Linked DNA regions of Homo sapiens: region 1 is linked to region 2. The links come from fine-mapping of genetic effects on gene expression. A gene starts in region 2. The other region holds a variant in brackets. All regions are shown on one strand. Distances are from middle to middle.

Region 1 (2,908 bases), 53 kb after region 2:
TCGTGACTCAGCCAGTCCTATGGACCCCACCCAGAGGTGGAGTCAGGGCATGAGGATCATTTGCCATACCTCTATGATTGCATCCCCAACAAAGCAGCAGCACTTATACCGTAGGCCCCTGCCCACCAAACTGTCTTTGAAAAATCCTAGCCTCCAAATTTTCAGGGAGATTGATTTGAGTAATAGCTTCATGTACCATGTGGCATGGTCAGCCTTGCATCAATTAAGATCTTTCTCTAATGCAATGCCATGGTCTCAGTGAATTGATTTTGTCTGTGCAGCGGGCAGGAAGAAGCCCACAGGGCAATTACATATGGTAGTGTATGGCAGTGTCCTAGGCCTTCACATTCACTCTCACACTCTTCACACTCACTGACTAACCCAGAACAACTGCGAGTCCTGCAAGCTCCATTCAGGTAAATGGCCTATACGGCTGTACCATTTTTAAATTTTTAAATTTTTTTAAATTTTTATTGAGATGGAGTTTTGCTCTTGTTGCCCAGGCTGGAGTGCAATGGCACGATCTCAGCTCACTGCAACCTCCACCTCCCGGGTTCAAGTGATTCTCCTGCCTCAGCCTCCCAAGTAGCTGGGATTACAGGCCTGTGCCACCACGCCTGGCTAATTTTGTATTTTTAGTAGAGACGGTTTCTCCATGTTGTTCAGGCTTGTCTTGAACTCCCGACCTCAGGTGATCCACCTGCCTTGGTCTCCCAAAGTGCTGGGATTATAGGCATGAGCCACCGTGCCCAGCCTTTTTAATCTTTTATACCATATTTGTACTGTACCTTTTCTATGTTTAGATGTGTTTAGATACACACAAATAGTTATTACAATTGTATTATTATTGCTCACAATATTCATTATAATAACATGCTGTGCAAGTTTTTAGCCAAGGAGTACTAGGCTATACCCTTGTAAACTAAAAGTAAAATTCGAAGCCCCCACTAACTGACCTAATGGACCCTCTCCTGGCAAAGCAGACCCCAGAGTAACCTTGAAAACTGAGTTCTTGGTCATGATGGGATGAGGTCAGGCACGCCTCCTTATGCTCACCCCTCCCTCCCTAACCGGTTTAGGCTTTCTAACCTAAGGGCTAAACAGAAACTAGCCCTTTCAAAAGACTCTACCAGTGATATCAACCAACTGTCTGATATTGCTCCTCCTTTTATGCCTGATAAGAGACTCTTGAATATGAAGTGGTTCTGACCAGTCTACAGAGAATGCAGTGAGGGTTTTCATGTTCTCTGCTTCACCTTTTGATGCCAGAGGGCCAAAAACTCTACCTTAGATCATCTTAATGCCACCATTTTTTGAACATGGGGCCCGTGGAGAAGCATGAAGCTCAATTGCACATGAGTATGTTTCTCCTTTCATAAAACTCATCACTCCTATAATGTACTAAATACGTACATTTGGCCACCCCACTCAGCATAAATTTCTCTTCCCTTTGGCCCTCCCTTGAAGTATCTGTTTCTGGTTTGTGGCTGGAGGCTGTGCTTCCCCTCC[C/T]GTCAGAATGGCCACCCTGCAGGCTGCAACCCTTTATGAGAAATAAAGCTCTCTTTTTTAGATTTATGAACCTCATCACCTGATGAAGCTGGGGACATTGAGCCCCTAAATTCTGATTGATCTTCTTTGCTAGTGAAAGAGGCCTCCCCATCCCCAGTGGAGGCATCCCACCTGAGAGGACTAACCCTGCATTGCCTACGAAACTGTAATGGCCTCCCTGAGGAAGTTGCCATGCAGGACAAAGCAGATGCTCCTCAGGACCCTTCCCCACCTGCCCTCTTTGCTTCTAGACCTGTAACTAGACTGAAATCCCAGCAGGCCCCTAAGGTGAGGGACAAAGTGTGACCCATGAGGAAGTGTGCAACACTCCAAAAGAACGGCTTAAGATGTCTAATTTATACAGACAGAAATTTTGGGAACACGTATGGGAATGGATATTGAAGGCATGGGATAATGGTGGAAGGAACATAAAACTAGATCTGGCCAAATTTATATGGGCTTACTAAATAGAGGTTCTACATTTAATGTTGCAGCTCAGAGAGTTAGGAAGAGCTCTAACAATTTGTCTAGCTATTTGGCTGAGACATGGACCAAAGGTGGGTCATAATGAGTAAATCAGAAATTCCAAACCTGCCTTGGTTTAATGTAGAGGAAGATACTCAAAGGCTTAGGAAGATTGAAAATTTAGAGGAATTGTCATTTAAGAACTATTCACCCACACTGGAAGGATCCGGAAGACATATCTTTCACCATTATTGTAAGAGATAAATTTGTAGCTGGGCATGGAGGGTGATGCTTGTTATCCCAGCACTTTGTGAAGTCCAGTTGGAGAATAGCTTGAGGCCATGAGTTCAAGAGTAGCCTGGGGAGCATAGTGAGACCCTCTCTCTACAAAAATTAAAAGAACAAAACAGGGCTGGGTGTAGTGGCTCATGCCTGTAATTGGCACTTTGGGGGGCCGAGTTGGGTGGATCACCTGAGGTCAGGAGTTCAAGACCAGCCTGGCCAACATGGTGAAACCCCTTCTCTACAAAAATACAAAAAAACAAAAACAAAAACAAAACTAGCCGGGCATGATGGCAGTCACCTGTAGTCCCAGCTACTTGGGAGGCTGAGGCAGGAGAATTGTTTGAATCCGGGAGGCGGTGGTTGCAGTGAGCCGAGATCGCACCATTGCACTCCAGCCTGGGCGACAGAGTGAGACTCCGTCTCAAAAAACAAAAAAACAAAACAGCTGGGCATGGCTGTGTGAACCCCACATATCTGAGATGGTCTCAGTTAATTTAGAAAATTTATTTTGCTAAGGTTGAGGATGCGCACCCGTGACACAGCCTCAGGAAGTCCTGACGACATGTGCCCAACGTGGTCAGGGCACAGCTTGGTTTTATACATCTTAGGG
Region 2 (2,908 bases):
ATGTGATTACCAAGTGCTCAGACCTACCTTTGGAGCCTGTAGGGGAGGAGATTTTTCGAGGTCTGGCCCGAATGTCATAGATAATGGGGTACTGGAACCAAGGGATCCTGGAGAGGACAGGGATAGGTATTAAGAGGCCACAGTTTCGGCCGGGCGCGGTGGCTCACGCCTGTAATCCCAGCACTTTGGGAGGCCGAGGCGGGCGGATCATTTGAGGTCAGGAGTTCGAGACCAGCTTGATCTACATAGTGAAACCCCGTCTCTACTAAAATACAAAAATTAGCCGGGCGTGGTGGCGGGCGCCTGTAATCCCAGCTACTCGTGAGGCTGAGGCAGGAGAATCGCTTGAAATCAGGAGGCGGAGGTTGCAGTGAGCCGAGATCGCGCCACTGCACTCCAGCCTGGGCGACAGAGCAAGACTCCCTCTCCAAAAAAAAAAAAAGAAAAGGCCGCAGTTTCACTAGCCTTGCCCGGTTTCCCCTCACCACGCGTTTTTTGGCCTGCTCCTCTCCACGACCACAGACAAGGAGAGATTCTCTTGTCCCTCTGGAAAACAACAGTTTGTATGCTGCTGGAGGTTCTCGCAGCACCCACTATCCTAGGGGCAGGGATGAGGAGGGTGGGAAAAGAGCAGCGTTGAATCCTGTTGCACGTCCGACTATAGCCACTGCTGGGTCGGCGTCAAGGGTGAAAGGTCAGGGTCAGCAGGCTCTGCCCGCCATTACCTGAAGTGAAGGCCCTCGGCCAGGATAGTGTCCTGCTGCACTCCACCGATCCGATTGAAGAAGATGGCTCTGTGCCCGCCTTCCACTGTGGGGAGATGGGTGGTGATCAGGCCAGGCCGCTGCTCAGAGGAAATGCTAGGCCCGTGGAGGGGCGCGGGGACAGGGCAAGGGGTTTGGGGGAGGGACTGGAAGCGTCCGGCGAGCAGGCGGAGGTTGCTCACCGGTGAACACAGATTCGCGCACACCGTAGGCCACGGCGCCGGCCCCCAGCAACAGCTTCAGGGCCGTGCCCATGCCCCGGGGCCCGGCGGGCAGCCGTCCCGCCAAGTCCTTCAAGTTCTGGGCCATGTCTGATCTTGAGGCCGGCGGCACTGGAGGTCAGAAGGGGGTGCCGGCCCGCCTCTACCCCGCTCCGGCTTAGGTACTGCACCCTTCACACGAGGGTTCGGGCCCGTAAGGCTGGCGAAAGAAAGGGCAGCGGAAGTGCGCTCCCTTTGAAACCCTCCCCCTTAGCCCACTACGGACCCGAACTTCGCGCACAGGAATCGCGCATACGGAAGTCCCGCCCCTTTCTGGAAGGCTGCCCTCCCAGGGAGGGCAGCGCAAGACAGCAAGTCATCTCCATTTCCTGGCCCACTTTCAAAATGGCAGCCGGAAGGAAATTTGTGATTAGAAGCCGCGCTGTTCTTATTTAAGAGCGTTAGCGCAACTTCCGGTATTGTTGCAAGATGGCCGCGCCCAGTGATGGATTCAAGCCTCGTGAACGAAGCGGTGGGGAGCAGGCACAGGACTGGGATGCTCTGCCACCCAAGCGGCCCCGACTAGGGGCAGGAAACAAGATCGGAGGCCGTAGGCTTATTGTGGTGCTGGAAGGGGCCAGTCTGGAGACAGTCAAGGTAGTTTGGGACAGGAAGTGGAGAAGTAGTAAATCGATAGGTTGGGACTCCGTGGAATGAGGGTAAGGGGCCCAGAGTGGATGTAGAAAGCAGAGAGGGGTGAAAGATGCTTTTGAAGGAAGGTGGCTTGGTTGGCTTTGCGTTGATTTGACATCCTGGGATGGTAGTACTCATTTTTCTTTCTTTTTTTTTTTTTTTTTGAGACGGAGTCTCGCTCTGTCGCCCAGGCTGGAGTGCAGTTGCGCGACCTCGGCTCACTGCAACTTCTGCCTCCCGCCTTCAAACAGTTCTCCTGACTCAGCCTCTGGAGTAGCTGGGACTACAGGCAGGTGCCACCACGCCCGGCTAATTTTTTTGTATTTTTAGTTCAGATGGGGTTTCACCATGTTGGCCACGCTGGTCTCGAACTCCTGACCTCAAGTGATCCGCCCGCCTCGGCCTCCCAAAGTGTTGGGATTAGAGGCGTGAGCCACTGTGCCCGGCCGGTAGTACTCATTTTCTTTTGCTCTTTTTGAATGATATTCTAGCCCTCACCTCCTTGCTTCCAATTGGTTTACCAGGATTCTGTGGTATAGTAGTCTAAGCAGAGGAAAGTTTCGTTCCTTGCGTCATTCCACATCCCAAGACAAGTTACTGGGCAGATGAGAAACGTAGTTATGTAGCCTAGTCTGCCCACACTTTTTGTAAGGGCTTCGTGTTTCAATTCATTAGTATCCATAGTCACCTCTCTCTAATATCCACCTATGATACACTGTCCAGACCTGGTTATTATTTAAAACTTTTACATCTGCATTTTTATCTATCATTCATCTCTTTCCCCACATGTAATAGAACCAGCAGTTCTCTATCTTAAAGCCTTGGGCAGTGTTCTTCCTCCTCCTTTCTCTTACCCGTTAGAACTAATTGAATAGGCCCAGAAGAAATCGCATTGGTTTAGAAGTCAGGCCAGGATTTTAATCTTCGTTCTAAATACACTTTTTTTTTTTTTTTTTTTTGAGATGGAGTCTCAGTCTCTACCAGGCTGGAGTGCAGTGGCACGATCTTGGCTCACTGCAGCCTCCGCCTCCCGGGTTCAATCGATTCTCCTGCCTCAGCCTCCAGAGTAGCTGGGATTACAGGCCTGCGCCTGTAATCTATTAAAAGAATAGAAAACATGATTATATCCTACTAATGGGTTGAAACTGTATTATTCATTCAAGAAGGTTTTTTTCTTCTATAACTAAGGGTGTCTCATGGACTTAGTTCTTGGTCATTTGTTCTTTGTGCTCTCTGTGACATTACTTCAAC

Evidence for each region. PIP is the estimated chance that this variant, and not a neighbour inherited with it, causes the effect. A credible set is the group of variants that fine-mapping cannot tell apart.
Region 1: its variant is the best candidate, but not a certain one, in a credible set for the expression of EMG1 in lymphoblastoid cells (GEUVADIS, PIP 0.77).

The regions. Positions count from the first base shown.
Region 1 is chr12:7,022,201-7,025,108 of GRCh38, forward strand. No RefSeq gene overlaps it. Among named protein-coding and RNA genes, the nearest start is that of LPCAT3, 5.2 kb to the left of the region's middle. The variant C/T (reference allele first, on the strand shown) is at 1,510.
Region 2 is chr12:6,969,471-6,972,378 of GRCh38, forward strand. EMG1 (EMG1 N1-specific pseudouridine methyltransferase) reads left to right here and starts at 1,443. Exons shown (of 6, transcript NM_006331.8): 1 at 1,443-1,621. The coding sequence starts at 1,454. It overlaps PHB2 (prohibitin 2), which reads right to left and starts at 1,194. Exons shown (of 10, transcript NM_001144831.2): 1 at 947-1,194; 2 at 726-810; 3 at 28-107. The coding sequence starts at 1,073. RefSeq lists enhancers at 1,118-1,720, 1,241-1,310, 1,401-1,580, 1,631-1,750.